4 separate regions of the Homo sapiens genome follow, and all the other regions are reported to be linked to region 3. The links are microRNA targets in miRTarBase. Many come from high-throughput screens and were not tested one by one. Region 3 holds a microRNA gene; each other region holds the end of a gene's coding sequence. Distances are between the middles of the regions.

Region 1 (7,774 bases), not on the chromosome of region 3:
TTGAGGTTATTCAGATTTTTGTGATTAAAGGATTAGCCTTTTGTGACTTAAAGGGAAGATAACATACTAAGTAGTTTGTACTGTGGGCAGTGCTCCATGTACGGTCTTAGTGAAAATAAAGAAATTTTGCATAAATCTCCACAGAAGTACTCAGCAAGCAGTTATGACATCAAATTGGGATTAGGGATGTTGGAGGTGGGGGTGTTCAGTAGTTTAATTTCTGGTGGGGACTCATAAACAGCTAAATACAGTTGCAACCCACATTGCAAGTGGTATACATTGGAATGAGGGTCTTTGAAGTTAAATCCTTAAACCATGATTCAAACCATTGCTTAGCTTATTTTTGAGGTTTTTAGCTAGGAGTAAACTAGCTTTGTCTTGGGCTTGATGTACTTTTAAAAAAATCCCTTACTCAGTCCAAATGAGGATGAGAGGGTGAAAGGACCCTTTATTTAAAAGAATAGGGTCAGCCACGAAATAAAAATGTCTATGAACCCGAGTAATTTATCTCCTGAGTAATTCTGCTAACTGGCTGCAAAGGATTAGGATCTGCTTGTTTAAAAGACTGGATGGATATAAAATAGAATCAACTGTAGTGTTAGGCTGATCATGGGAAATCAAAGTAAGTTTGTTTTCTCTTGCTGTTCCAACAATTATAGGAAACTATGGTCCAGGAGGCAGTGGAGGAAGTGGGGGTTATGGTGGGAGGAGCCGATACTGAGCTTCTTCCTATTTGCCATGGGTAAGTAGCTTTTGAGTTTTACAATTATTATTATCTTGGGAGACATAGCTGCAGGAGTAAAAGCTTTTTAGGATCATGTTATCTTTCCTTAAAATCTGGTTAGATGGATAATTTCATAACCTATTTTTTTTTTACTCTTTACTTCTGTTGAAACAGGCTTCACTGTATAAATAGGAGAGGATGAGAGCCCAGAGGTAACAGAACAGCTTCAGGTTATCGAAATAACAATGTTAAGGAAACTCTTATCTCAGTCATGCATAAATATGCAGTGATATGGCAGAAGACACCAGAGCAGATGCAGAGAGCCATTTTGTGAATGGATTGGATTATTTAATAACATTACCTTACTGTGGAGGAAGGATTGTAAAAAAAAATGCCTTTGAGACAGTTTCTTAGCTTTTTAATTGTTGTTTCTTTCTAGTGGTCTTTGTAAGAGTGTAGAAGCATTCCTTCTTTGATAATGTTAAATTTGTAAGTTTCAGGTGACATGTGAAACCTTTTTTAAGATTTTTCTCAAAGTTTTGAAAAGCTATTAGCCAGGATCATGGTGTAATAAGACATAACGTTTTTCCTTTAAAAAAATTTAAGTGCGTGTGTAGAGTTAAGAAGCTGTTGTACATTTATGATTTAATAAAATAATTCTAAAGGAAATTGTGTAATTATAGACTTTTTATTTTAAATAAGTTAAGGAGTGGGTAGTATAATTAAGGTCCGTTGCAAAGCTGTTGTTATATTTGTATAAGATAAATGCTGGTCAGATGTAAGTGTGTTGTCTGCAATTCATCAGGATTAAATTATGTAGATAACTTAAGGGATATCTCTGCAAGGAGAAACACCTTTTTAGATCTTTTAGATGCTGCTTCTTCAATGCAAGGAAAGGAAATAACCCCAGCGAGGTACTCTTCAGGGACACAGGTCTAGTACAAGAGAACTCTTGACGGCTACTAAGTTCAGCCAGTCTTAAAAAACTGTGCTGTTTCTACAAAACTTTAACTACAGTAGTTTATAAGGATGCCAACGAAAGCTGAGGGTGTAGAGCAAAATAGTTCTAAGCTTCAGTTAAACTTCTTTAGGTAAGATCTTATTTACTTTTCCTTTCTTAATTTTCCTCCCTAAAAGATAAACTAATACTCTTAAATGGTCTTTCAGTATAGTGGTTCTTACGTAGTTTAACATAGCTATAAATTGAGTTTAACAATTTATAAACTCAAGAGAATAATTTTTATAAACCCTGTTTTCCAATCTGTCATTTACTTAAATTATTTTGGTTGTTTTTCCCTTTTTTTCCTTCTTTTCCCACCCCCTCCCCCTCCATGTGAAGATTTGGGTGCTTAACATATCATTTTTTTCCCTGCCGGAATTTTAGCATTGATATGAACCATGGACAAGTATATTCTGCTGCCACAAAGACTGTAAAGTGCTTCATTTCAACAGCTGAGGCAAGCCAAGTGATCATTAATAAAGCTTTTCTTGGTTCCTTCAGTGGTGTTGGTAGTAAAATGGTAGGTAAAAGTTAGGCTGCAAGTTCAATAAATCATGAGATTTCCCATCGTTACACCCTTGTGTATTCACATTTCTTGGATCAAACATTTTGAGTGAACTAGGGGTTTTTATTAAAGACATTTGTTGTATTTATGGTTGTAACTGTACATGCTTATCAGGATGAGACTGAAAGAAGGTAGGGCAAAAATGGTTGAATCTATTTTCAGATAGTAGTTCATACTTGAGTGAAGTGTCTTGTCTGCATTATGAAGCCTGGTATGTATCCAGTACTAAATAGGTGGGTTAAATGTGGTAATTCTAGTTCAGTGTCTTACCCTGAAGAGAAAGTTGTAGGTTGGCTGTTGAAATTCATTCCTTAGATATGATCAGTTTGATTGCCCGGCTTTATTGCCTTTACAGGAATGTGATACTCAGGGCTTACTCTATACACCAATGAGTCTTCTTTGATCCTAAGACCACCACTGAAGTTGTTTAGGTTCTTTTGGACAAACATGATAAACTTCTTCAGATACTTTTTTTTTCCTTTGGCAGGAAGGTGTCTTGCTGCAGGTAACTAATGAAGAAGTGGTCAACCACAGAGTCTTCAAGAAATAAGAAATTCTGTACCATCTGAAAGTAGTTCTTGTTGGTGCCTTCATTTAAAAAGCACTCTTTAAAATAAAAGGGAAATGTTTTCTGATAAAACAAACATTTAGTTGAGGTTCTTGATATAAAACAATTACAAAATGAGTGTTGTTTGTAAAACAGTAACATCAAATTGGCTAGAGAGATAAATGTATCATGTTTTAAATTAGGTTTTGTGAGTAGACAGATTACAATTCTATTTTAAATATAAAGTTTATAAAATAAATACTTTTTGTATCCAAATACTTGGTGTAATGTTTACACATAAAATGTGTGAATCTTGTTCTATAAATATTTGGTTGTCTAAAAGATCACCATCCCCTAAATTTTTAAAAGCAGTTTCACAAAGCTATGCATATTTTAATATTAACAGGTAAATGAGAAGAGCATTGTGGACATTATTGGCTGTCCCCAATAAAATGCTGTTCATTATGCACTGTATATTCAGCGTTTGAGTACTCCTAAAGTTTCTGGCTTTACTTTTACGTTTAGCAATACTGGTGGCATTTTGAAAATCATGGATTTTAAAGGTTAACCGGCTGGAGTGGTCCAGATTAAGTGGCTTTGCAGAAGCACTGAGGTTTACAATATGTGCTAGATTGTCAAATGTCAATTAGTTTTATTGTGGTTTACACTGAGTAAATGAATATCAGTGTTGCTTTTTAAATGTGTTTATTTGGACATTTATCTGAATTAAGAAAACCAAAAAGACCAGGTTAATTTGTTTCTATGATAATTTGTTTTGGTTTTGATAATGTGAGGTATCTAACAGGTAAGTCAAATTTAACAGCAGGTAACACATAGAAAGCAGCTTTCTGTTTGAAATAGCTGAGTTCGTCAATTAAAGACGTACAAATATCCCAACTTTAAGAAAATTTTGAAGGTTTAAAAATGTGTGGATGTACAAAGACGTTGAACTTTGAAATACATCAGGTTGATATGCATAACCTCAAAATACCAACTCCTATCCAGCCAAGGTCAAGGGAATATCACACAAATAGGGGAGAATTAGGTAATTGCACAATAGACTGAAATGAACTGATTGAAGGAGGGTTTACTGAAGCATGGGGGTAATGTTGGATATTCAACATAGGCTTATTTCCTGTGTGTATATGTTGTGTTGAGCTGTTTCTCTTGTAGAAATTGAAGTTTAAGGTAGTTCTTGTGTAGCTTTGAGACAGTGCCCTAAATGAAGAAAGGCTGCTTTTTGGCCAAGGCTTTATATTGTTGCTGTGTAACAACTTACCTCAATACTTAAGAGCAGTTCAGAGAAACAAACCAGCATCTATGGGTCAGCAATTGGGAGCAACTTAACTGATTCTGGGTAAAGCTCAAGGTTCCAATCACAGAAAACTAGGATTGGAGAATTTTTTTAATATCCAGAGTGGCATACTAACAGCTTTAAAGTTAATCCTGGTTGTCATCTTCCCTCGGTGAGTGATTTGAGCAAGAAAAGCTGTAAAATGAACACGCTCTACGAAGTAGTCGTGCTATCTTGCATCCTTTATGGTCACAGAATGTGGTGGGAGGGTTCTTTTCCCTGGTACAATTACCAAGCAGGCAGGGAGCATTGGGAACTCTCAGATGCCAGCTGTCACACTCAAGGGGGTGCCCTTACTCAGTTTATTCACTAGTGTGAAACCAGATTTCTGTATGTGTAAGCTTTTCCATGTAGCCCAATTTGGTAGATGCCAAATTGCTTGACCTAATAAATACTAGTTAGGCATTGGGAGCTAACAATGTAAGGCAACAAGTCTCAGTTTGTCACTGATGGTTGAAAAGTGGAAAACATCTGTCAGGACACCTGGACTGCATGTTACATAAATTCGCTCTCTTTAAGGTTTGGAACTAATATACTGAGATGTTGACAGGCCCTACATAATTTTTGACATTTCCACTATTTAGTAATGCACTAACACTGGCTTGTTTTGGGGTAGTGGAGGGGAATTGGTAACAAATCAGTTGAGTTGCATGGACTTAACAGAGAACAAATCGTTCAGAGACTGAGATGGGGAATGATTTAGCTACTTGAGTGCGTTTAAAAGACGTTAATATTACCACACAAAACCCTGTATACTGGTTCTGAAGCTCTGCTGAACCGAAGCCTACCTTGAGACCAGGGGACCACTAGAAATCTAGGTCTTTTTTTGCTTGGAGTTGCCGTACAATTGGCCTAAAATCTGATCACACTTGTGAAGATGCTCAAGTGATAGTTTTAATTGGAAAAGGAGATGTCCAACCCACTTGGGTTGTCTTTGTTCTTGTCTTCCTCATTCTGATTAAGACGTTAGATGATGCAATCAAGACTGCTCAACTAGGTAGGTAATGTGGAGGGTCCTAGGCAATGGTCAGCTTTCGGGCATTGGCTTTGTAATCTAGTTGGTTTGCACTGGAAGCCGAATGTGGAATTCCCTTCTGCCTCTAAAACTGGACTGTCAGAAAAGCAGTTGCAGTTTATATACCTTGAATCCAGCATGTTAAGATGGAGGCAGGGTTATGTCAGGAAGCCAGCCCATAGCCAATTAGAGCTTGTGACGCTGGCTGCTTAATGCGCCGATTAAAAGTCCCTTGATGGGAGAGGGGCCCATCAGTTTCAGGAACCTCCACAATACCAAAATGTGGATGCTCTAGCCCCCTTGTATGAAACGTGTATTTGCACGTGGTCTAAGCACATCTCATACACTTGAGTTGTCTAGGTTACCCAATATTTAATCCAAGGTAGAAGCTAGGTAAATGGTATGCTGCATTATGTATGGGGAATAAAGTTCAGTACAGACACTACCATCTTTAAATATATTCAGTTTGCAGTTACTAGATCTGTGTGTGCTATATTTAAGGGTTTTTAGAGTTTAAACTTCAGGCCAGGCATGGCGGTCCATAATCTGAGCAGCTCGGGAGGCTGAGGCAGTCCAGGAGTTTGAGGCTGGATCTTTTATTGGGGCCACTGCACTTCAGCATGGGTAACAAGAGTCACCATGATTACCGATTCTGCTCTCCACTGTCTTTTATTTTAGAGGTTTGAAAAGAATGCTATCTGATAAGCAGGCACTCTTTTGAGTGTACTTAGTAGGATTTCCTACTGAAATGTTTTATGTGTGTTCTTAAATTATAATTATCAAAAGCTTAAGACATTTGAAATACTCCCTTGTAAAAAGCAACAGACTAAAATGATCATTTGAACACCATGAGTCACTGAAGGGGCAATTTTATCTAGAAGCATACTAGAAGCATTTCTGGCAAAATAACAGGTCTTGGGAAACTTTATTATAAAAATCCAACGGTATATATAAACTGCATTTCTCTAGCCCAAGATACTTATGTGATACTCTACACTGTAGCTCCTATGGCAGAAATAATATCTGAGAAACTTCATTTTGAAAATTTGGACATATTAAGCATTATAGTACCCGTCAAAATCTTGATGTTCCCCAAACTTGAGTCATCTAGGTGAGGTCATTGCTGTCTTCAAAAAATTCAGCAATCTCCTGTTTACTGTTCTAGTGAACTTAAGTGAGGTTTTCATTTCAAATGCTATTATTTCTAGAATTTACCTTACCCTGGTTTATTTTCAAATTCACCTGTTTTTTTTCCCTTAATCGCTTTTGCCCATTTTAAACAGATGGTTTCACTGTTGCTGACTCTTTCCCTACTGTTTATATGGCTTACAGTGTTCTGGTGAGATCTCAGTATTCTAAGATGGTGAGGCCATCCCTTCAGGCTGGCTTTACTGCCAGAGATTTTATGGATTTAATATACACACAAGGAGTTACGTTTTTGCAAGTAGCCCATTCTGTCTCTGGTTACATGAGGAAGGCCTGTGGCTCAAACTACCAGTGACCGTAGGTCTTCAGTGCATTCTATATCACATAGTATTCTGTGTGTTAAGTATTGGGGTAGGGGGGTGGATTTGCCTTACTATGGATTTGGCATACTATGTTGACCTCAATTTGGCTTGAGTCTGAGCAGTTTGCTATGCTGCCTTATTTGTTATTCACCTATATTCCTGAATGTGGATATTTTGGAAGGAAAGTAAGGTAAATTTGGTTCAGATTCTGTATAAAAGGGAAAAGTTAATTTTTAATACAAATACAAAATTTATTTCCATAGAAAGCAAAATTTATAAGTTAAATATAAAGATTAAAATAGTGTTTGAAAAGCTCACTATAGTGCTAACAAACTAAATGAAAATAAGGCTATTTTGCATTTAAAACTGAAATACCTCTTAAAATAATTTGATCCCCAGTGTTTGCTCTTTTTGAAGTAACCAACTTACTCTTAAAAAGGATGGCTGCCAAGATGGAAAGTCTTACTGGGTTTTCATGTTAACCTATTCTTTGGACATAACTATGAATTTTGTATACAATGCACTTCATGAAAAGTTGTGGCTCCCCCAGATTGCCCACAAGTGTGATCTTGAAGTCCTAAACATTTGTCCATGTAAGCTTCAAAACAGCGTTAACTGAGTTATTCAAGTAGCAGTACTTAAAGATACAATTCTTGAAGCAGTTTCAATGGTTTCTGATCCAAATAATCAGTTTCTGAACATTACTACTTCACATAATAGAGTCCATCTTCAGTTTCTTCTCACTTTCTCTTTCCCTTTTGGGTTTCCTTTTTGTGGCCTGAGGCCACCAGTTCTTTGGGTACTATCAAGATACTTCCATCATGGGTACACTGGAGAGCATAGTGGTTGGGATTGACTGGCCTACCTTGGTCATCTCTTAATCTACTAAAAATATCATGATAAAGGTCATGCAGTTTCTGTTTCATTATGTTAATAGCTTTGTTACATTGTGCTTGCTCTCTCTTAAGAGTTTCCTTCTTTGCTTGCAAGTTACATACATCATCTTCTAAATTCAAAATTATGTCCAATTTGCGTTTACGACAGTTCTGCGCAGCAACTTT
Region 2 (7,790 bases), not on the chromosome of region 3:
AGCCCTCAGCTTGCAGCGACCACCCGATCCCAGGCTGTTCGCTGAAGGAGGAGGAGAAGCAGCATTCGCAGCCGCAGCAGCAGCAACTTGACCCAAGTAAGTGCAAAAGAAATTGCCCCCTGATTTATTGCTGAAACCTGTAAGGCTCGAATGTGCAAAACTGATAGTTTTACTAACCTATAAAAACGTCTAGACGCCTACCCAAGCCTAGGCGAACAACATGCATCCATAAAAAGAGCTTCCCATAACCACCTACCCTGGGCGCTCAGTTAGTACGGTAAACAGAGCGCGAGCATTAAGGCTTTTTATGATAATTCCCCACAAGTTGTGAAAAGCGACCATCCTTGGTGAAATTAATTTAACGACCTCTCTTCCCCACCCTGTGGTCTCTCCCTGCCTCCCCTCCTCTCCTCTCTCCCCGTCTCCAAACCTCCCTCTTTGTAGACAACCCCGCCGCGAACTGGATCCACGCTCGCTCCACCCGGAAAAAGCGCTGTCCCTACACCAAATACCAGACGCTTGAGCTGGAGAAAGAATTCCTCTTCAACATGTACCTCACCCGGGACCGGCGCTACGAGGTGGCCAGGATTCTCAACCTAACAGAGAGACAGGTCAAAATCTGGTTTCAGAACCGTAGGATGAAAATGAAAAAGATGAGCAAGGAGAAATGCCCCAAAGGAGACTGACCCGGCGCGGTGCTGGCGGGAGCGCTCAAGGGCAGCGGATTTGTTGTTGTTGCTGTTTTCCTTTGTGGGTGTTTGGTGCTTGATTTCCAGAAACTCTCCAGCGACTTGGACTTCTTCTTCTTTTTTTTTTTCTTTTTAGATAGAAGTGACTGTGTGGTTGGTCTCTGAGGTATTTGGGGGACTCTGTATTTGCTCGTTTACGTGTTGGAAAAACCAAGTGGCTTTGGGGTTTCGCCCTATCCCACTCCCTCTCTTTCCTGCTCCATTGGTTCCTTAAGAAATGCTATATTTTGTGAGTGCAAGCTGGCTTGGGGAGCCCTCTCTTGTGTAAATGTCCCCCATGTTTCTGAAAAGTGCTGTAGTTTAGTCCCCTCACCCCCAGCACTGCCCAAACAGGGGCCAAGTGCGCCCCAATTCCAAGAATGAAGGCAGAGCGACAACAGTGCGGACACCCCGGCTGCTAGCCCACGGTGAAGCCCGGCGGGGTTGCCCACCAGTTGCGAAAGCCCCCTTTCCTCAGGGAGCACGCGGGACCTCGGTGGAGATCTCCAGTGAGGCTTAGAGGAGCCCAGGGCCTCGGGCGGGTTGGGGTTTGTCCTCAGTGCATTGGACGCGCTGCTCTCTCCCCTGAAGGCTGGGCTCGCGTGGGCGGCCGCGGGTGGTGGCCCTCCCGGTTCCTGCCCGAGGACCAGTTGTAAATGTTACTGCTTCCTACTAATAAATGCTGACCTGATCAAATGGAGCCCAGACGCTGGCCCTAAACATTGTGTGCCTGCTTTCTCTGCCTCTCTGCAAAATATCACACTCAGGATATTTCTCCTCTACCCCTGGGAGTGAGACATTGTTAAAAATTCAGGGCCCTTCCACCTGACAGATCTCTCTGATGTGTCTCTGCCTTCTCTGCCTCACATCCCTTTGTGTAGGCAGATGCAGCAGCACAGACCCTGTGGGGGGACATTGGTGCCTCCCCAAGCCTGGTTCAAGGTCCTCCACGAACTCTGTGCTTGGGCCCAGTGTTAGCCTTGCAGAAGCGCCCAGAAGAGCCAGCAGGCCCCAGAAGCCAGGCACTTTCAGGCTGGGGCTTGGGTACACAGCACCCTAACCTTCCCTGGGCTCCTGAAGCCCCAGATGCCAAACCCCTCTCCAAACAAGGGAAAGGCCAACTCTACACTCTGGAGCAACTGTCCCAGCTCGGTGGGGCTAGCTGGCTCCGGGAGGTCCCAGCTGGTCAGGCTGTGAGCTTCTGCTCCTCCCCACCAAAGCCCCAAAGTGACCTTAGCGATCAAAATGGTCAAGGCTCTCCTCCCCAGCCACCTCCATTTCACCGCCCCCTTCCCCCCACCCAGCTTCTGTGTATGTTTAGCCCCCAGCTTGGCCCTCTGAGGGCTGCATTCAGGGGCTAAAATGAAGGTCATTGTAAGTGAGGGTTTGGGTGAGCACAGCATTTGCAGGCCAAAGAGGCAGCACTGCCAAGTGGCCTGAGCTGGGTGGAAGGTGGGGGCGGTGGCAGAGATCTTGGGGGATCCCAATGAAAGAGGGGACGCGAAGAAAAAGCATAGGGGGGCTGGGAGGGAAAGCCAAGGAAGGCCCAGATCCGGCAGAAGGTGCTGCGCACCCCTGCCACTGTGGCCAGCTGGGTACCTAGGGCTCTTTGAAAACAGGAAGAGCCGAGGTGTCATAAAGCCATCTAGCGGGCCAGACGTCTGGAGGTAATGAGTTTACGACAGGCCCAGTGCTTTGCTTTGAAACCATCTCATTTTGATGTTTGTGTTTGTGGGAGAAAAGGAAAAATGCAGACAAAACTGGGTCTTAAAATCTAGACAATAAAATATAAACAAGACTGCGTTGGACCAAGAAGGCAGGGGCATGGGAGCCCCCAGGTGAGGTGTGAGCACCTAGGAAGTAAACATGAAAGAGGTAGGAAGGAAGAGGTGAATGAATTTCTGATTTTTGAAATGAACCAGGTAATGGAAGTAGCCTAAGGAGATGGCATTTTACAATATTTTGACTATGACCACGGTTTAGCTGGTTCTTTAGAAACAAACAAACAAAAAAATTGGCCTGTTATCTGGGGATAGGGTGGTTAGTGATCTTAGGTCATTTACCCAGGTGAGAGTCTCCCAGAAGTGTGGTTCGCGGGAAAAGATGAAGTTAGATGCCTATTCACAAGAATCTCTGGCCCTCCACTCCAAACTTTGAAGCAAAATGTTGTTGAAATTTATGTCTATTCACTTATAAAAAAATACAATTGTTACACCTAAACTGGAGGAAAGCAGTTTTGAAGATGAGTAAAAAGATTAACCTAACAGGAAACACTTAAGCCAATTGAATAGTCATTGCTTTTAAAAAAAATTCTAGTGGAATGCTTAGTTCAATGACTTTTGATATATATTTTTAAAATCCCATTTATTGTCCATAGAAATTCCAACAAACAGAAGCGCAAAGGGACTTTCCAGACAGCCACTCAGAGATCCAGCAAAAAGCTTTTGATTTGGCTTCGATTCCCCCCAAAATCGGCCACCTAAGTGGGCCCCAAAGCATTAAAGTTACAGTGTTAAAGTAGCAAATATTCATGATTTAATCCTAAAAGTAACAGCTGTAAGAGAAAAACAAAAACATAACAATACTTGATTTCTGTAATTTCTTGGTTGCCAAAGTGTCTGGTTCCTCTGGAAAATAAAAAGCCTCTTGGCAGTTGATATTTAGAAAGTTGTAGGTTTTGTTAAATCTAGCCTGTCCTATAATTGTTTTAAAAGGCACAGCTGGGCGGTTACAGCATGGGGACTTTTGGTGTCTGGCAAAAGAAGGGCTGGAAGCTTTTGGAAAAGACACTACTGGAAGCTGTTGGGAGCACTGATTAGAATATCCTAGGCATACAGGAGCTCCTGCTTGCTGCTCTTGACTTGTTGACAGTCACAGGAATGAAGCATTATTAGTGTCAGCAGTCCAAGCCCCAAATTGAAGAACGAGATTAGAATTGGTTTGAGATGAATAAAAATTAAATTCAGTGGACTGGAGGTGGCATTTGGCCACTAGAGAGCGCTGTTGCTCCACTTTCTGATCTCGTAAAGCTGGAATTGCGGCGGAGAAAGGTTTTGATTAAAAATATTAACAATCTTATTTTTAATCCGAAATTAGGATAATTTTAACCAAAAATAAACAAGGTGTACTATTAATTTCTGTGTTTGCTGGGCATAAAATTTTGGCTCGATCATGGCTTCAGAAACTTTGGACTGTGGCACAGCTGAAACTATAAAACATGATAAATTAATGTATTATATCAAAACAGAAAGCTGTAAAAAGCATAGATCTTTTCTTACTAAGTTAATCGCGCTCTTTTTCTACTCATATTATAAACGGAATGCTTAAATAAATGTTAAAAACTGTTTTGTCCCAAGAGGAAATGTTGTAACGTTTTCTAAATTTGGCCTGAATGTCTATAAATGAATTTTCTAGTGTTCATTTTTCTTTTATTCCCCCGAGGAATCACACAGTTCTACAAGATGCCTGGTATTGTTGAGATCCAGGCTCTTTCATTTTCCCCCCCCCCATTCCATTCCAAAATCCACTCATTTATCCAGGGTTCAAACACACACACACACACACACACACACACACACACACGCCAAACTGAAAAAAAGGGGCACAATTACAAAGGTAGCTCCAAGGCTTTATTGACAATAATAATCTTTTAATTGGGCATTTGCAAGATTGAAGGACAAATCCTTAATTGTCAGAATCAATTCGTTCGCCTTCGGATTTAAAGAAAGTCATTATACTTGGCAATAACCAGCAGAAAAAAAACCCCACAAAAACAAACAGCAACAACAACAAAAAAACCCTTGCTCTCCACCACCCCAAGTCTGCACTCCTTACTAATTTAAAAATTAAATAAAGCATGCCTCTGTCATCTCCAGATTCATTAACGATTCCTTTACCTTTCAGTCATTCCCAGTAGAAATAATTGAGTCGGACATTATCACCTTGCTATGTCTGTCCATCTCGATCTCATTTTCTCCATTTGTAAAAATGATATTTCAGTCCACCCGGACACAAGTCAGGATCGCGCTCGCAGGCTGGGCCAACCCACAAGGAGCTAGGGGTAGCTGAAATCGCTCGCCAGCCTGCAGCATCTCTGAGGCCGTCTGGGGTTTTCGGAAATTTGCATTTGGTGTGGAAAGCCGGCGTGGTGCGTTTAGCTTGAGCAGGGGCGCCTTGGAGGTCTATTTCCAAGGCTGTGGGCCTGGCGCCCTCACGACATTGTACCTATCCCGAAGGAAACGGGGCTCAGTCACCCAAAGAGCCCACGAGAAAGGCCGAGCAGGAGAGGGGAAAACACACACACACAACAGAGAACCATTGCATTTATTGGACATTGAAACGGGAGCAGAGAGGGAAAGGAAGTGTGTGGGGAGGCGGTTGGTAGGGTAAAGCCAGACAGCTTTGGAGAGAGCTGCTAAAATCGGGAATATTTTGTCGATTCACACTCGACTGGGCCACATGACTCGGGCAACTTTTCTTCATCTCTGCTCACAAACTAGGCTGAGCCTTCTCTTTCTCTGCTTTGGGAAAAATTCGTAACTTTGAGGCCTGCGCGCTCTCTCGGCAGTAATTTCACAGGCTTGGCGGAGGAAGTAGGATCGTTAGCATAAGATGGGCCGCCTGCAGCTGCCTGGAACCGGCGCGATCTGAACGCCGGCTGGGAGGCTCCTGGGGGGAACTTGCGGTCGTCTGCCCTCCGCACTCCTCCGGGAACCGCAGCCGGCCCTGGTTCGCTGCGCGCCGGGGCTGAGACCCGGGAGCCGCGTCCTGCCCGAGGAAATGTCACCCTCCCCAGCGCGAGCCCTTTTTCCCGCCTCAGAACGTTTCTGTCCGCTCTTCTATTTACTCTCTCAGCAAGCCTAATGCCCCCTCCTGCATTCTTCAGCCTCCCCCTGCGCCCAGGGCTGACGTCTATCAAGGGTGAAATGATGGAAACTATATTCATGGGCATGATTTCCATTAAATATCAATTAACCTGAGAGCCTCGGCCAGGCTTGCGGTGCGTCAAGGGTAAATGTACATCTCATTTCCACAGGGCCCGCTCGGCTGGAAAAGAAAGGCTTTGATTTGCTTTGATAACGCCAGGATCTGGGGCCACACTCGCGGCTTTTAATTAAACCACTTCGATATGCCCCAACTCAAATGCACGGTCCGGTCCGTCAACACCTCTTGTCCACGTTCCCTGGGCTGCACCCGCGTGTCCAGAGCTGCAAAAGCCACGGGCAACCTCTGCTTTTGCAGCCAGGGGCTCGGGGAGGCAGTCATTTGCTCCGCAGCCTCCTGGGAGTGGCCTCCTTGGCTCCCCCAAGTCTAAGGCTCCGCCGCGGCCCCTCCCTGCCGGCTGCGATCCGCATTCCCGCGGCCCCGGGGCACACGGAGCCCTTGGCAGTGCGTCTTTATGGGCCCCCTTTAAGGCCGGCGGAGGCATCTCGGGCCGGGCGCGGCGCTCCGTCCGTCGGCCGTAGCGACTGAACTGCGCGCGGATCCCTCCGCGGGGCTCCTCGTCCCCGTCACGCTGACTTTCCGTGCAGTGCTGTGGTGCGAAAATGCCTCGCCGGTGCGCACCGGGTCGGCAGCCTCGGCGGCGGGGGCGAGATTGGCGGGAGGGGGGCGCGGGGGGGGCGCGGTAAGAGGTGGCGGCGGGCAGAGGGTGTTTTTTTTCTTTTCCCTCCAGAGCCGGGGTTTGTAAACCGAGGCCAGAGTGTCCCCGTGGGCCGAGCGCACTTTTTTCTTGTCCGGGTGCGCTCAGTCACTGGTGCCTGAGAGGAAACAGTGGAGGCAGCGGGGCAGGTCGCCTGGGGCGTCGGCGATTATATTGCGGCCGAGCCGGGGCGCGCCGGGAAAGGCCGGGAGGGCGGCGGCGCGCGGGGGCTGGGCGAGGCCCCGCGACCCGCGAGGGAGGCGGCGCGAAGCCGAGGCGGCGGGCGCAAGAGCCGGGCATGAGCGCCCAGTAGCTGAGCGCCCGCGGCTGCCTGGCCTCAGAAGCGACGCGCGAGCGCGGGCGGGCGGCAGCAGCGACGTAGCCCGGCGGTCCCGGCGGCGAGAGCAGCCGCCCCACAGGCCCCCGCGGCAGTGCGGCCGAGTCGAGGCTCGCTCTCTGGCTGCTTAGCGCCGCCCGCCCGCCCGGGGCCGCCGCCGCTGACGCCCCAATGAGTTCGTACTTCGTGAACCCGCTGTACTCCAAGTACAAGGCGGCGGCTGCGGCGGCGGCGGCGGCGGGCGAGGCCATCAATCCCACTTACTACGACTGTCACTTCGCGCCCGAGGTCGGCGGCCGTCACGCCGCCGCCGCAGCAGCCCTGCAGCTCTATGGCAACAGCGCCGCCGGCTTCCCGCACGCGCCCCCGCAGGCGCACGCGCACCCGCACCCGTCCCCGCCGCCCTCCGGGACTGGGTGCGGCGGTAGGGAAGGCCGGGGCCAGGAGTACTTCCACCCCGGCGGGGGCAGCCCGGCCGCTGCCTACCAGGCCGCCCCCCCTCCTCCTCCGCATCCTCCGCCTCCGCCGCCACCTCCCCCCTGCGGCGGGATTGCCTGTCACGGGGAGCCCGCGAAGTTTTACGGATACGATAACTTACAGAGACAGCCGATTTTTACGACCCAGCAAGAGGCCGAGCTGGTACAATATCCTGACTGTAAATCGTCCAGTGGTAATATTGGCGAGGACCCAGACCACTTAAATCAGAGCTCGTCTCCTTCTCAAATGTTTCCGTGGATGAGACCACAAGGTTGGGATGCATTTTTTTTTTAAGAAGGGAGAGGGGGAGAAATCTGCTTTCATCTCACGTTCTGGCTTTAAAACTCCCGTTCCCTCTCCCCCTCCTTTTCCTTCTTGTGTAGCCACAGTGGCTCTTATTCATAAAGTAATACAGACTTTTTTTAAAAAAGTAGGAACCATGTAAAGATGATGGGGACAGAATAATTGTGAAGACCTCTCTGCTCCTCTTGCCTGCACACCCTATATATATATATCGGAGCTAAAGAGCTCTGTGTATATTTCACCCCGTAGACCCCCGTTCCACAAACCTCCAGCAACATGCAGAGGTACCATAACATTTTTAAAA
Region 3 (7,790 bases):
TTTGGTAAGCTGAATTTGGAATTCCATAACCATGGGTTGTGGAATACAACAGTTTGCATTGTGTCCCTTAATTGAGGGACCACGATACCAAGTCTCCACTAGCTTTAAGCAGCTTTTTCAATACTTTCATATACTGTTTCTTTTGTGCTGATAATTGTTGTCCCATGATGAAACCCTCGCCTGAACAATTTCCCCCGAACCTGGAAATCCTGAGCAGGCACCAATGACTTACTCGCTGCCTGTGCAGTTCTTTTCACCTTCATATTTGAGGGTTCCATCACGATCCTTTTGCATAGTTTGTCTTGCCACCTGCCGGGTCCATCCCATGGACACTGACCTAAGTGACAGATGAGAGACATATACTGAAACAGATTTTTTGCCTGTCAGTGCAGCTAAGGGGTTCTGCTGCCTGAGTCTGCATTCTTGGCCTCGATAAGCCTGCAAAGTTCACATTTATTTAGTACAGATTAAATGACAAAACTGTTGAGTAAACATCACTAGAGGGTAATTAAGATTGCCAACCCCCAGTACAAAGCAATCATGCACCCTCGGATGATCAAACTTTTGTCTTAGGACCACGTGAGTAAACAAGGTATTTAGATAAACTCCTCCACATTCCCTAGATATTTGCTCTATTGCTACCAACTCAAAGTAAAGAAGATTAGGCTGTTTTCAGCCAAATCATTTACTGAAGCTATGCAACCCCCCGGCCTTCCAAGAAGGTTTGTGTCTATTTCCTATAACTATCTTTATAATTTTTTTAACCACTTTGTCCGATCCCCTACAGGTAGGGTTGCTTTTTTCCTGTGAAAGCCATCAGTTAAGAGGCCATGTCTAACTAGGAAATATAAATATAAAATAAATAAGTTTGTATTTCCAGTGGCAATGGAAAGATAAAGCAAATGCAGAAAAGAGGTACAGTTAATATGATTTAGTGATTATTGATTTGAAAAAGCTAGGGGAGAGAAGAAATTTCAGGTCATTCATAAGTTTCCACATGGGGAATGCTCATGGGGAAGGAGTAAGAAATTGTCAGGTCAACAGAAAAGTGCAAACAGTCATGGGACAGACCAACCGTTTTCTTTACATATTGAGTTCAATGAAACATTCATGTGGGATATTTTCAGTAGGTAATTGGTTTATACGTATTTCTAGCTGGAGATAGAACTCTGGTTGGAGATGCAGGCTTAGAATAATTTTATTATAATTATTAAGCAAAGCCATAGATCTCACTGAGCTTATCCATGATGCAGAAGATGTAGAATAAGAAGAAAGCCATTGACAAAATCCTGGGAGTATCAACATTTCACAGAGTCACAGGACTTGGTAAAGGAGACTGAGCAGTGGCTAATGAAAAGTAGGAGAGGAGTCAGAGAAAGTGATGTTGCAAATTTCTTTTAAATATGAGAATTTCAGCAGTAAGATTATAACTGAAAAGTCAATTGGATTTAACTTACAAGTTCTACAGTGGTAATCTGTTCAAAAGAATTATTTTAGAGTTGTTAGGTATAATGTTGATGTAGTTAATATTTCTGGAGTCCAAGAGGAAATCTCCCAAGATCCTACCTAACTTTTTGCAACTAAAGCAGCATATATACACAGGGTCTAGGAAATTGTCTAGACTGGGGAGTACACATGCCAGCATTTTTCCAGAATTGTCAAAACCTAAGGGTCATGTGTGAGGAAAAGTGTTGTCTTTTTTATCTGCTTCTTGTGGAGAGTGGAGATCTGTATTGTTTCTCTCTCTCTCTCTCTCCCCCTCTCTCTCTCTCTCTCACACACACACACACACACACACACACACACACAAGTACAGTAATTCATCCTTATCCAAGGCGTGTATTTTCTAAGACACCCATTGAATGTCTGAAACTGTGGATAGTATGGAACCCTATACATCCATGCTTTTTTTCTTCTATAAGTGCATATTTGTGATAAAGTTTAATTCATAAATTAGGCACAGTGAGAGATTAACAGGAACTCATAATAAAATATAACAATAACAATATATTGTAATCTCAAAGTTAGGTGAATATGGTCCCTCAAAGTGTCTTGTATTGTACTCGCCCTTCTTTTTCTTGTGATGACTGTGAGATGATATAATGCCTATGTGATGAGATGAAGTCAGATGAATGAGGTAGGAGTTGTCATGTGGTGTTAGGCTACTAATTATTTCTTGCTGTCTGACCACACATCAGAAGGAGGATCATCTGCTTCATGTGACCCTGGATCATTGAGCCATGATAATGTTGATGGTTGGGATACAGGAACAGACCATTTTGATGACTAATGGGCAGATAGCATATACAAAGGGATGATTCATGACCTGGATGAGATGGAACAGGATGCCTTAATATTTCATTGTACTCCTTAGAATGACACATTATTTAGGACTTATGACTTGTATATTTCTGGAATTCCACATTTAATATTTTTGGACTATCATTGACCATGAGTAACTGAAATCACAGAAATTAAAGAGACCCAGATTTGCAACTGGTGTGTGAGGGAAGTCTTGTGAGACTGAGCACTCAGTCTGTGGGATCTGAGACTATTTCTAGATAGACAGGGTTGGAATTAAATAGAGGACAGTCAGCTGTTTTTTTCTACAGAATTCATTGCTTATTTGTTGGTGGAGAAAATCCTCCACACATTTGGTCGCAGATGTCTTCTGTTTTAATGATTTTGGTATGAGAGCAGAGGGAAATCATGTTGTGTGTGTTTCTTTCTACACATACAGCAGATAAGAGACTACTGTATACTCTGTTCTAACTGCTTCTAGTCCATTTGTCTAGAAATTATACTTTCTAAGTTTGACACTGTCCACTTATACTAATTCTGCTAATAATACAGTTTTCTGTCAGTCTTATAGGGTTCTGTTTGGATGATGACTATTGTACACTGTAGTTCACTTGCAGAGATCAAATTGTGATAAATTCCATTTTTCCTTGCATTTGAGAACTACAAAGGAGGGGAAATAAGCATTCTTAATGCATTAATTTCCTACCAATAGTATACTTAATAATAATTTTACTATAGTCTCAACGTATGGTCCCAAAAGAATGCTTTGTAACAAATCATCTGAGTCTTTGTAACAAAGTGTCAGAGTATTATGCTTTTTAAACCAAGACCTTAATCATGCATGAAAGTGTGCGTGATTCTTTTAAGTTAAGTTGAAGTCTTGCAATGTCTCCCAGGCTGCTTTCAGACTCCTGGACCTCTCAGATGATCCTCCTGCCTCACCTTCCCAAGTAGCTGGGATTACAGGCATGTGCCATCGTGCCCTCTTATGTTTTTAATATTCTGTATTTTTTATTTATATTTGTTGATTTAATGTATTTTACTCTTTTCTTTAATAGAGGATGTGAGTTCTGTAGAGTCCACATTCAGGTAAGACTTTGCGGTTTTTTAAAACGTATATGTTAACTCAGAAAATATAGAGAAAAGAAATCACTATCTGCTGAGTATTCTACTCTGGGCTAGACAACGTATTATGTGCTTAATATTTATCATCTCACATAGTCATCACACAGCTTTGCAAAGCATCTGTGCTACTGTCACCTACTTTGTATTAATCAGGCAAATGTGATTCAGAGAGGTTGATTAATTGGCCTATGATGTCATAGCTAAAAAGTAGCTGACCCTTGAGTTTGCCATCTGCTTACCTTGCTCCCTAATCCCTTCCCTTCCCCCTTGGCATAGATTGATGGAGACCTGTGGATCACTAGGATCAAGGTACAGGACCAGATGGGATCAATTCACAAAGTCACATTTTGTTATATGTTAACTCTTTTTAGAGATTTCCCATAGAACATTGATTAATCCAAGACTTTGTTCTAACATGTTTAACCGTTAAAGTGGTAACCAGTACCTTGTTTTTATCACCAACGTTTTTAGAGCAGATCTTACTTAGCTGTGGCCACAAGACATAGGCTTTTGTTTCATATGCAATACCAGGTAAATCCTATAGATGGATTATTTCACTCTTAGTGGAGAATATCTACATATAGATATGTTAATCATATTTAGAGGCTATTTCTTATAGAATTCTCTATTTACTGACTTCTTAGTTTAGTTCTTCTTCAAAGCAGTCCCCTCTTAGTTGCATGCACTCTTCATTTTCTTTTCTAGAGTCTTTTCTCTTCTTTCATGACTTATTTATAATCTTTTCCTGATTACTTTCTTCTCTGCTTTCCTTGGTGTTCTTTTCTTCTATTATTTTATTTCTTTCTGCCAGCCCCATTTTTCTATAGCTAAAATTAAAGCACATGGAATTTTAGGATTTTAAGGACTCTTGGAGACTAATCAAAATACTTTCATATTTTAAACTCTATTTAATATCCTGGAAAAATTGTTGTTCACATGGAGAATCTGAAACTCAAAATGACTTATTTAAATATAAGAGGTAGCAGAAGTAATATTTAAACTCATTTCAAAGCCCATTACTCTTGTTTTTATATCATCATGTAAGTGAGTGTTTGAATAATAGAAAGGAAAAGGGGATGGATCTGATTAAACAAATGGAAAAGAATAATGGAATTAGCTGGAAAACCCAGTAGAAGTAGATAAGAATGGAATTATCAGGGAAAGGCCAAGTTTGAAGAGAAACAATCCCAGGATTGGTAGGAGTAAGGGTTTTACCAAAGAGATCAGAATATTGGATCTTATGACAAGTTTGATGAAGATAAATTAGAGGACCAAAAACACAGAAGACATTGGGAGTTATCTAGAAAGGCATACTAAAATAGGGTTCAAAGAAGTCCTGAATAGATTGCTGCTTTTTTTGCTTGTTTAATTGGAGGAATGGGCAAACTTCAAGATTTCTATTGAAAGATTTAGAAAAAAAGACCAACTCAGAAAAGTCTCCACAATCAGAATAGAAATGTCCTATTCTGTTCTTTCACCCCAAATCTCACAGGAGTGGCTTAGAGCCCCTTCAGTGCTAGGGGATTGAAGGTTGCTGAATTACATAGATCTGTGGCCTAAGGCAGGTGTCCCCTCCCGTTTGCCTCTTTTTCCAAGCCTCTGATGTCCTACCCATGTACATGTAAAGCAGGGGGAAGATTGGCTGTCAAATTAGTCATGGAGCTTCAGTTGGGTTTTTGGTAACATGACTGAGACTCTGTTTAGTTGTTTTTCAGGAACAGGTAAATACAGAGCTTATTGGTTGGTCATTGAGTTTATCTTTTCAGTAATCTGTGCTTAGATGAGCTAAATATTTAAAGGTTGGAGACTGCCATGAAGCTCTGCAGAAGAAAGATCTGGAAGTGGGAGACACTTTCACTATATATAGTGGCTCCCACTTCCAGATCTTTCTCTCTGTATATATAGTACTTAGAGAAATCCAACTATCAGGACTCAGTTTTTCTAGCAGTCTCTCTCCTTGGGTATAAGTACCTACGAAGATTTTTAAGGCTTTGCTAGTTTATGTAGACCTGAACAAGGAAGGAAAAGTATAAAATAAGTAGTTAGACTTTCTTACTTTTAATGTTTCAATTTTTGTGAGAAAAATATTCCCAATAACAAATATAGATTTGTATTTTGACATTTGTAGGTTCAGCTTTTCAACATTTCAGATATTTCAGGGCACTCTCTTGTAGCGTTTTAGGGTGAAGGGAAGCAACAAGGCCTTTTTAAGTGGTTTTTATGCTGAAAAACAAAGAATGTCATTTTCCAGTGACACAGATTAGTCTTTGAATCAGAGATAGACAATGGATAAGGGACAAGGTAACTGTACCTTTCTTCCTCATTTTAGGTTATCAAGTTTGTTCCAGTTTAGATATCAAAAGTTATGTCAGCCATTAAGTACATTTTCAGTTCATCATAGAGGACAGCTTGTGAGGACTAATTATACTCAGGGTATGCCAATTATATTGGCGGTCACTATTTTTTATGGAACTAAGAGTGAGTGTTCATTGGATGTTACAGGTTGGAGAGATAGAGTCAAAAATAGGTAAATGCAATCTTTTTTAAAAACAGAGGGGCCGGGCGCGGTGGCTCACGCCTGTAATCCCAGCACTTTGGGAGGCCGAGGCGGGCAGATCACGAGGTCAGGAGATGGAAACCATCCTGGCTAACACGGTGAAACCCCGTCTCTACTAAAAATACAAAAAATTAGCCGGGCGCAGTGGCGGGCTCCAGCCCCAGCTACTGGGGAGGCTGAGGCAGGAGAATGGCATGAACCCCGGGAGGCAGAGCTTGCAGTGAGCAGAAATCGAGCCATCTCACTCCAGTCTGGGCGACAGAGCGAGACTCCGTCTCGGAAAAAAAAAAAAAAAAAAACGAAAACCAGATGGCATATTTTAATTATGCCAAGAAACATGATTTAATATATTGAGGACTGATCTTTCCCCAGATTTTGTTTTTTGTTCTCATTTTTTGGAGTGAGCACTAAGATATGAACTGGCAGGTTTTCTTTTTAAATATATGAATTTGCTCATTTTTGTTTTATCTTTTTTCTCTAGTCTTTTTGGCAAACCGACTACTGAAAATTCACAGTCTACAAAAGTTGAGGAAGACTTTAATCTTACTACCAAGGTAAAATAGTCTCTTGTTAAATTGATTTTCTCAGTTGGAATCTAATTCTGTATAGTATTTACTTTTCATGTTTAGCAGTGGTGTATGTATCATAATTTCATGTTGGTAATATAAAGTTGGTCACATAAAAACATTTTATAGAAATATGAGTAGTTGATTTAAACAGTTTTTTTTTTGTTTTTTTGTTTGTTTGTTTTACTTCAGTAAATAACAAATGATTGGTAAATACTCTGAGGGTGTGAGGGCCAAAAACCGGAATGGGCTGTAGAAATACATAGTGACAGGAACATTATATTAGAAAAAACTTTTCCACAATAGAGAATATATAAAATCTGGTAAAGGTTTCTTTGCATAAGTAAACTTACTGTGACTTTTAAAATTATTCTATTGTAACTTTAAAAACACCTCATCCTTAAAATTATCTTTAATGGATCCAGTTACTTATTACAGTAATCAAGGAATCTGTCTGATAAACTTCAGTTCTGAAACTGTGCCACATAGCATATAGGTTTTTTTGGCGCATATTATTTTGATATCATGTAGTTTTTAGGAGAGAGCTTTTTATCAGTTTCTCTTCTTGGTTCTTTAATTAAACACCAAAATAATATTAGAAATTGTGAAAATTTATTTGGGCATGATGGTGCATGCCTGTAGTTCCAGCTACCAAGGAGGCTGATGCAGGAGGATTGCTTGAGCCCAAGAGTTTGAGACCAGTGTGGGCACATAGCGAGACCTTATCTCTAATTTTGAATATAATTTAGAAATTTAGAAATGTAAATTCTCTTTCTCAGAATCTGTATTATTAAGGCATGTGAGGATGTTTTCTAAGTTATTTCATTAAAAGTATACTTTAAATTCTTCAACTAAATGAAGAATGCAGGTTTCACCCCAAGTAAAAAACCAGTTCTGGAAGCAGAGACTCTTAATAAGCATATGGTAAGATTTTAATTTCAGAGTTTTTAAATTGCAGTTTTTAAACATATTGTTCAAAGATCTTTGATCACATTTGAAAATTTTAAATTTCAGAAGATTTTGTATTTAGTTATTTAAATAATCGTTTTGGAGCTCTTGCATCACTATGAGATACTGCAGGTTAGAAAACATACTTGTGTGCATCCTAGTGTACCCAGAATACAGTCTTGCCTGTAAAAAGCATTTTAAGCGGTTTTCAATGTGAATAAATAAGCAAATGAATTTTTATGTAATGGAATGTTACAAGTAAGATAATATGCATAATATACCTTATAATTAAA
Region 4 (7,790 bases), 42 Mb from region 3:
GAAAACAAATATAGCAGTTGCATCAAGTTCTTTTATGTTTGTGCTAGTTTAATATATTGATTACATTTCAGTTGAGGGGTGTTGGTTTTCTTTTCCTCGTTGGAATGTTAGCCCCAAAGTCCTTTTGATGATTGATTGGGGCATGTCCTCTGCTTTTGCCCAAGTGAGCTCAAAACCAGTTGAAGGACTTATGGACTGAATATTAGGTTGGGTTAACATATTAATATAGAAGATCAATGGACTCTTTACTGAATAAATATTTTTTACACCTAATTTTTATGTACCTAAATTTTGGTTTGTCTGAGGTGTAATATAAAGACTTAAGAATGAATAAAAGAGCTTTACGTTTGGGATGACAATCCATGTTGGAATGTTGAATTTCTTCTTTTTTACAGAAAATACACATTGGCAAGTTGAGAGTTATCAACCTGTGAAACAGTATGCAGATTTGTGTCTTCTGTATCACATCTGCTAGAAGTTTAATTTTTAATATTTGTTTTTGTTTTCTTTTGCTTAATCTAATAGCTTTGTGTTTTGTGTTTCCCAAGTAATACAATGATCAATAATGCTCTCAGTGTTTATCAGCACAAAATTTACTTGTGATAGAGATAATGCCAGTTCCCCTTCTAGTGGCTCTTAAAACCTGAATTTCTTACTCTTATCCACATTCTTTTATATGAAACTGCCTTTTTATCATCTTGCTACCTTGTGAGCTTTCTAACATGGTGTCTTTGGACCAAAGGGGAGTTCTTTTAAGGTACTAGAAGTGAGTTTTCTTAGGGTGGGAAAAACATTTCTAGGATTGTGTGATTGGGATTTCAGTGGAAAGCTTTCAGGTCTCTCATGAATGATGTTGACCCAGCTATGTTATATTTTAGACCAGACATGTACTGATGACCTTTATGAGTTTTGCTGGTATAGATACTGCCATTTAGAATAGAATCAATGTAAAATACGAAAATTAAATATATAAATGTACACAGAAATCTTTCTACACAAACATACATTCAGTATTTTGCAAGTAGGTTTCTTTCAAGGCATTTTTGCCCTAAGAATACATTATCTAATGATAAACTGTAAGTTGTCAGTACATTTCTCAATTAGAACATAGTTTTCAAACTCTCCTGCAGAGAATTTGTTTTCTAGATTTGTTGGTAGAGAACAAATTTTTATTCTTCACATTTTTATGCTGCCACATATATAGCAACCAGAATGTTTTTTATAATCCTCCAGTAGAGGATTTTTCTAATCATTGACAGAAACAAGGTTTATTCATTTCATTTTTAATAGTACTCTTAAAGTAACCAGGATCTTTTTCTTAAACCAGAAAAAATTAGTCACTTTTAATCTGTTTTCATTGCATGTCAGTGTATTGAGGGGGAAAGTCTGGAAATTTGCTATATTGGGCATGAAGGACATGAGTTTAACATACGCTTCTAATTCCAGATTCTTTTGTGATCGACATTTGATTTCTAACTATCTAAAAATAGTATGTCAAATATGTTTTACTCATATAGCATCATTTTTTAAATTAACTTCTCTAAACTTTCAACCTTGTTTTTAAAAATTGCTATTTAAAAAAAAAAAAAAAACTGTGTGAAACCAAAAATAGCCTGCATGTGTTTTATTTTTAATTCCTTGTGGCTGGGATTGGAGGGGAGGTCACAGTTTGCTTCAACAGTGAAAATACATTGCATGCCAGAAAAGATCCAAGGATAAAAATTAATACCAAGGTTTTAAACTGATTATTAGTATTTTTAATAACTCATATTTAAAATCAATAGGATGTACATATAAACTTATTTTTGTTTTTCTAGGTAGTTGGCAAAAAAGGAGAAAGCCACTAAGGTACAAAAGACACTGGACAACCATATTGCAATCAGATCTACAGCTCCTGGATAATTGCTTGATTCTCGCCAGAGACTGTCAATGTTTCATTCATTGCCATTACCAATAAATCATTGCTTTTGTTCAGATGGTATCACTAGTGTTTCCATTGTAATCTTGACACATGCAATTGTAAATAAAAGTCACCACTTTTGCCAAGCTTAATTTTTGTCTTTCTAAATCAGTATTTTCTCTTTCCATGTATTTGAAAACTGGTTAACTTCTGATTTTAGTAGAGACTTAAGTGTCTGGTAGTATATTGATTGAAAGCCAGTTTCTTTAGAAAAGGAGAAACTGTTCTAGGGAATTAAGAAGTACATGTGTACACATTCATGGCAAGTTATTTTGATAAGTGAACCTGGAACAGCTAACCATGTTAAATTATTACTGCATTTTTATTAAAGGACATTTGTATATCTGAGCTATGGAAATTACTCAAATTATAAATTAGAAGAAATAAACAGGTTTAATGAGATTTAGCTACTCTTACCTAAAACTTAGCTAATGGGTCCACAGATTCTTTCTTGGTATATATCAAGATTTTAATCTCTTCTGGTAAACTTTAAAATTTGAGTCAGCCTTTTTTTTTTTTTTTTTTTTTTTAACTAATAGAAGAATGTGGAAATCAGACAGTTGGGGAAAAAATACAGCATAGTGAATTCAGAAAACAGGAATTGGCCAGGTGTGGTGGCTAATGTCTGTAATCCCAGTACTTTGGGAGGCCAAGGCGGGCGAATCACCAGAGGTCAGGAGTTCGAGTCCAGCTTGGCCAACATGGTGAAACCTCGTCTCTACTAAAAATACAAAAATTAGCCAGGCATGGTGGCGGGTGTCTGTAATCCCAGCTACTTGGGAGGCTGAGACAGAAGAATCGGCTGAACCCGGGAGGCAGAGGTTGCAGTGAGCTGAGATTGCGCCATTGCGCCCCAGCCTGAGCGACAAGAGCAAAACTCCGTCTCCAAAAAAAAAAGGGAATTATTACCCTTAATCAAGTATTTATTACCTGAACTACCAAAACGTGCAGTGTAAATATACAGAGAACATGATTTAAGGTTGAAAATGAGGTGCTCAAATAGAAATGTTTAAAAGGTCTTTCACAAAAGGCTGGTAAAATACCTATTCGTTACCTTTTTTATCTTAAAATTGTAATCTAAAAAGTATTGGTAGTTTTAATTTTAAAATTTCTGAGTATTTTGAAAACTATTTTTAAAGAGTACATAAGACTGTAAAATTGTGATTCAGTTAAACATTTGAGGGCATTCTTGTCTAGGAATATGGTAGAGATACCATTTGCCTTTGTGAGAGCAGTGTGTTTATACTTGTTTATGAAAAAATTCTACAGAAGTTTTAGTGTTGAAAGAGTCCCTTTCTGAAACCCAAGTGTCATTAGATAGTTTAGTTCATTTGTATATGGGCACATTAACTGGTCTGTGATGATCTTAACACTCCTTAAATAGACCATCTCAGATTAATCACATCTGAAATTAAGGATAAGATTAATATGCAGGGTTTTGGTTTACAGTTTTGTACACTTAACCTTTCTGAGTAATTGTTAAAGTGCCTCATCCTAAGTATTGCTGACCTTTTCCTATTTATACTTGATAGTTTGAAAACCCAGTGAAACAAATTTCGTATTTGTAAAGGATTGGACATCAGATTTATATTGTCTATGTGACTCTTCTATAACAATTAGTTGCAGTATGCAAGTATTACATAATTCAAATTGTAAATAGTGAAAAATGAACGTTTATAGGTAACTATAACGTTTCACTTAATGGGAAATCTTACTATTATAAATGTGCATAATTGGCATTTAAAATATCAAACTGAAATGCTGTTTTCTCCTAAAACAGTATATATATATACACACATATGTATATGTAACATTTATATATAACACTGAATTTTCCAGATGAATAAGAGCATTTGAAAAAATGTAACTCTAGTTATTTTAACTGAAGTTATTTATTAGTGCATCTAGAAAACTGGTATTCAGTTTCTTGTTCATTTTGTCGGACATAGCAAAAAAGAATTTCATGATCTCTGTATTTTGATACATTGACATCAGGTGCTTTTGATGAGAAACAACAGTGAAATATCGTGTTCATAATAGAAACGAAAGTCAGGTATTGCAGTAGGAAGTCTTTGTCAGCTTAATGCTGAAGCCAAGAGTAGCACAAGGTACCACATTCTTGTGCCCACGACAGGCTTTTATAATCCTTCTGAGTTCTCTTTGACATCAAGCCCCACGTTGTTCCCCAGTCTCAATATTCTGTTGGAGGCAGCCACGTAACAATTAGAGTTGAAACCTGCCCCACGTTGTTCCCCAGTCTCAATATACTGTTGGAGGCAGCCACGTAACAATTAGAGTTGAAACCTGCCCCACGTTGTTCCCCAGTCTCAATATACTGTTGGAGGCAGCCACATAACAATTAGAGTTGAAACCTGCCCCACGTTGTTCCCCAGTCTCAATATTCTGTTGGAGGCAGCCACGTAACAATTAGAGTTGAAACCTGCCCCACATTGTTCCCCAGTCTCAATATTCTGTTGGAGGCAGCCACGTAACAATTAGAGTTGAAACCTGCCCCACTTTGTTCCCCAGTCTCAATATTCTGTTGGAGGCAGCCACGTAACAATTAGAGTTGAAACCTGCCCCACATTGTTCCCCAGTCTCAATATTCTGTTGGAGGCAGCCACTTAACAATTAGAGTTGAAACCTGTCTGCCATCCTTTGTCTCAATGTTTGAGGATGTATGCAGTGTTTTTGGCAGCGATTATAGGAATGCAGTTGTTTATTTGGCCTCAGCAGTTTATTTATGGCTGCAATTAATATCCCTGATCATGGGCTTTTAAACCTAAAATAGTTCAGATCCTCCCTTGTTCCTCTTAATGTCTAAAAGCTTTGATTCTGTAATAAGAATAAAGTGTTGGAGTTGAATAAATTAGTTACACCCTTTGTAAGCTTTAAAAACATGAAATTTAAGGCTTACTCATGTTGCTTGTATTGATACTCATATAGTTCAATTTAGTAGGTTAATTTTTGTGTTAGGTATATCTCTTCTGGAACTGATAATTTGTAATCTTAGACTATTTTTTTTTTAAGATAAGTAACTTAGAGTAAGAAATCCAGCTGGGAACAGTGGCTCATGCCTGTAATCCCAGCATTTTGGGAGGCCGAGGCGGCTGGATCACTTGAGGTCAGGAGTTTGAGACCAGCCTGGCTAACATGGAGAAACCCTGTCTCTACTAAAAATACAAAAAATTAGCCAGGCATGGTGGCAGGTGCCACACCCAGCTACTTGGGAGGCTGAGGCAGTAGAATCGCTTGAACCCGGGAGGCGGAGGTTGCAGTGAGCCAAGATCGCATGACTGCACACTAGCCCGGGCAACAGAGTGAGACTGTCTCAAAAGAAAAAAAAAAAAAATCCATTCACAGAACTGCTAAAGAAAAACTAGAGGAATATTTTGCTCATTTAGCTTTAAAACTCATTATTAGAGGTGTGTATTTTACAGTTTTGTAAATATAGATTATGCTTTATAATACACATAAAGCAAGTATATATAACATGCATATAGTAAATAAATTTTAAAATATTGACTATTCCCCAGTTAAGCCTATACTTCTTAAGGAAGACTACTGATGTCATTTTAAGCATGTTTCAAAATTCAAGTTTTATTTTTGATCAATAAGGTTTTTTTTTTTTTTTAACATGCTCAGCACTATAGGAATAAGAGGACAGTGGAGATTTGTAGGCTAATAAGATCGCTTTTAAACTTTGTGGTCCATGTAAAATTATTAGTTGGAGAATGTGTAATTAGAGAACTATAAGATAAAGAGATAACCTTTAGAATTTGAATGTACTAAAATTGTACACAGCTTGGAATATTAAAATCTTAAGGATATGCAATGTTAAAACTGCTAGAGTATTTTTCCTTCGTGCTTGCTATGCTTCTCTATGGGAAGAGGAATTTTATTTTGGAATTATTTCTAAGTTGAACAGACCAGAATTAATTGTGAAAACATGATCTGTTGGTTTATAATTGGACACGCATTTGGAGATACTGGCTCATCATACTACCTAGGAGCAAAATCTCTGAAGTTTGAATCCCTGCTCTTCCACTTGTTAGCTGTGTCATCTTGAGCAAGTAACATCCTTCAGAGCTCAAATTTCTTCTTGTGTAAAAATAGGAACATCTATCTCTTAGACTTGTTCTGAAGATGCGCCTTACTTTGTATCTGGAACAAGGATAAGTATCTTCTGTATCCTGCTCTCAGCTGTCACTGCTTTTTAGGCCATCATTACTTGCTTGGCATACTGCAGTGCCTCCTAATTGTCTCTTTGTTTCTGCTCTGGCCTCTCTCATGTATCCCCCACATGGCCGCTGGTTCTCTTTTCTTTATGGGGTCTTTGTAATGTAATCTCTCCTCCTCTAGCCTCCCCATGCCCCTCATTTCTCCAGTGTGCTGTGCTGTATTACCAGGTAGCAGAACGTACCCTAATATCGCATGCCTTCCTCTGACCTAACTTTTCCATCTGACCAATTCCTACTTATCTACAAGGCTCAGTCCAAGGAAAACTGATACCGGGAATAATCATAACAATTGTGCACGCCTCCTCAGCTGCTATGACACCTTGCCATTATTTCATCCGGATACTTATCAAGCTACTTGTAATGATCTGTAGTCTTATTTGGACTACTAGATTGTGAGCTGTAATACAAGTATTTTGTCTCTAGTATTAAGCCAGTTTATTTGGTTTCTATCATTAAATACAATGTTGAAAAAATTCTCAGGGTCCAAGGGGAGATGCTTGGGTTGAGTCAGAGATAAAGTAGGAATATGCAGTTGAGGAAGGTAAGGAAGATAATTTAGCTGAAGTAAAGGAAAAGTGCATAGTGTGTTCATAGAGTGGGAGTTAAGTGTAAGAGACATTCTAGGGAAGTGAAGGAGAAGCTGAAAGAGCAAGTAGAGACGGTAAGGTGAAGCTCCTCTTGCCATGTGAAAGAGATCAAACTTTCTCCTTAATTTATGGGAGGAGCGAGCATAGAGAAGTCTGTGATGTCTCACAAGGTTCTCACTTTTACAATTGAATATAGAAGTAGCTCTTAGGAGAAGCAGAACGTTCAGAGGGGAAGATGAATATGGTTTTGGGTACATTGCCTTAAATTGCATTTTTGGTATTTGGGTGGCGATGTCTAGTAAGTAAAAAGCCAGGAATGTGATTTTAGAGCTTAGAGCTAGAAGCAAGGAACTAGGAGTTGTTTAGATGATGAAAACTGAAATATGTATATGAATGGGAATTTTTAGAATATAAAGGGAGAGAATGAAACTAAGGAGCAAATGTTAGGGAATCCTAAGAAATATTAAAGAATTGGGAAAAGAGGAACCTGGAAGGTAGAGTAGTAAACAGGAAAGGGAGGAAAAACAGGAGGTGGTAATAAAGTAGTGTTAATGAATCCAAGAGGGAGCAGTCACCATCTTCAAATGTGATATTGAAATTAGCTGGGATGTCCAGTTGTTTAATCCATTAAATTGTGGAAACAGTCTTTCTAGTGCTTAATTATAGGAATCATTGATCATATTAATAAACTTTCAGTTGAAGCATCAGCAGATAATTATTCCAAAACCCTCTGGCAAAGAAATGTAGATGCTTTTATAGTCTACCATTGAACACAGTTTTACATGACACTTGGCAAAACTTGGAGATGGATGGCACTATTTTGTAAGAGAATATGAAACACTGCTTTGAAGTTGTCATTAAAGGATCTTATCAGGTGCTTTTTCTCTTGTATTTTGTTTATAAATTTTGTCCTATCTGTCATTCTAGTACTGTTTTTCTTGATTGCTTTTGTTCTCTTAAAAGTTTCTAATTTCACATCACAAAGATGATTCCTGTTAGAGT

Evidence for each region. Region 3 holds the annotated microRNA hsa-miR-3156-5p (AAAGAUCUGGAAGUGGGAGACA, at 5,256-5,277, shown strand). A microRNA usually pairs through its seed, bases 2 to 8, with sites in the 3' UTR of a target mRNA and lowers its output. Matches are read on the target gene's strand: a 7mer-m8 pairs with bases 2 to 8, a 7mer-A1 pairs with bases 2 to 7 and ends in A, and an 8mer does both.
Region 1: the mRNA of HNRNPA2B1 is a reported target of hsa-miR-3156-5p. Seed matches in the 3' UTR shown: 7mer-m8 at 1,585-1,591 and 8mer at 1,819-1,826.
Region 2: the mRNA of HOXD9 is a reported target of hsa-miR-3156-5p. The part of its 3' UTR that is shown has no 7-base or 8-base seed match.
Region 4: miRTarBase lists TXNL1 as a target of hsa-miR-3156-5p. Seed matches in the 3' UTR shown: 7mer-A1 at 3,323-3,329 and 7mer-A1 at 7,652-7,658.

Annotation. Positions count from the first base shown.
Region 1 is chr7:26,185,463-26,193,236 of GRCh38, reverse strand. HNRNPA2B1 (heterogeneous nuclear ribonucleoprotein A2/B1) reads left to right here. Exons shown (of 11, transcript NM_002137.4): 10 at 660-742; 11 at 899-3,310. The coding sequence ends at 721. It overlaps NFE2L3 (NFE2 like bZIP transcription factor 3), which reads right to left. Exons shown (of 4, transcript NM_004289.7): 4 at 6,100-7,774. The coding sequence ends at 7,454. Among named protein-coding and RNA genes, the nearest start is that of HNRNPA2B1, 11 kb to the left of the region's middle. RefSeq lists enhancers at 4,442-4,966, 7,367-7,596, 7,617-7,666.
Region 2 is chr2:176,123,490-176,131,279 of GRCh38, forward strand. HOXD9 (homeobox D9) reads left to right here. Exons shown (of 2, transcript NM_014213.4): 1 at 1-96; 2 at 445-1,448. The coding sequence ends at 686. It overlaps HOXD8 (homeobox D8), which reads left to right and starts at 6,216. Exons shown (of 2, transcript NM_019558.4): 1 at 6,216-7,454. The coding sequence starts at 6,878. LOC100129455 (a long non-coding RNA gene) reads right to left here and starts at 7,039. Exons shown (of 1, transcript NR_187615.1): 1 at 4,336-7,039.
Region 3 is chr18:14,824,919-14,832,708 of GRCh38, forward strand. It overlaps MIR3156-2 (microRNA 3156-2), which reads left to right and starts at 5,248; the gene lies at 5,248-5,324. It overlaps ANKRD30B (ankyrin repeat domain 30B), which reads left to right. Exons shown (of 44, transcript NM_001367607.2): 33 at 3,360-3,390; 34 at 6,465-6,537.
Region 4 is chr18:56,597,084-56,604,873 of GRCh38, reverse strand. TXNL1 (thioredoxin like 1) reads left to right here. Exons shown (of 8, transcript NM_004786.3): 8 at 1,818-7,665. The coding sequence ends at 1,847. Among named protein-coding and RNA genes, the nearest start is that of TXNL1, 38 kb to the left of the region's middle.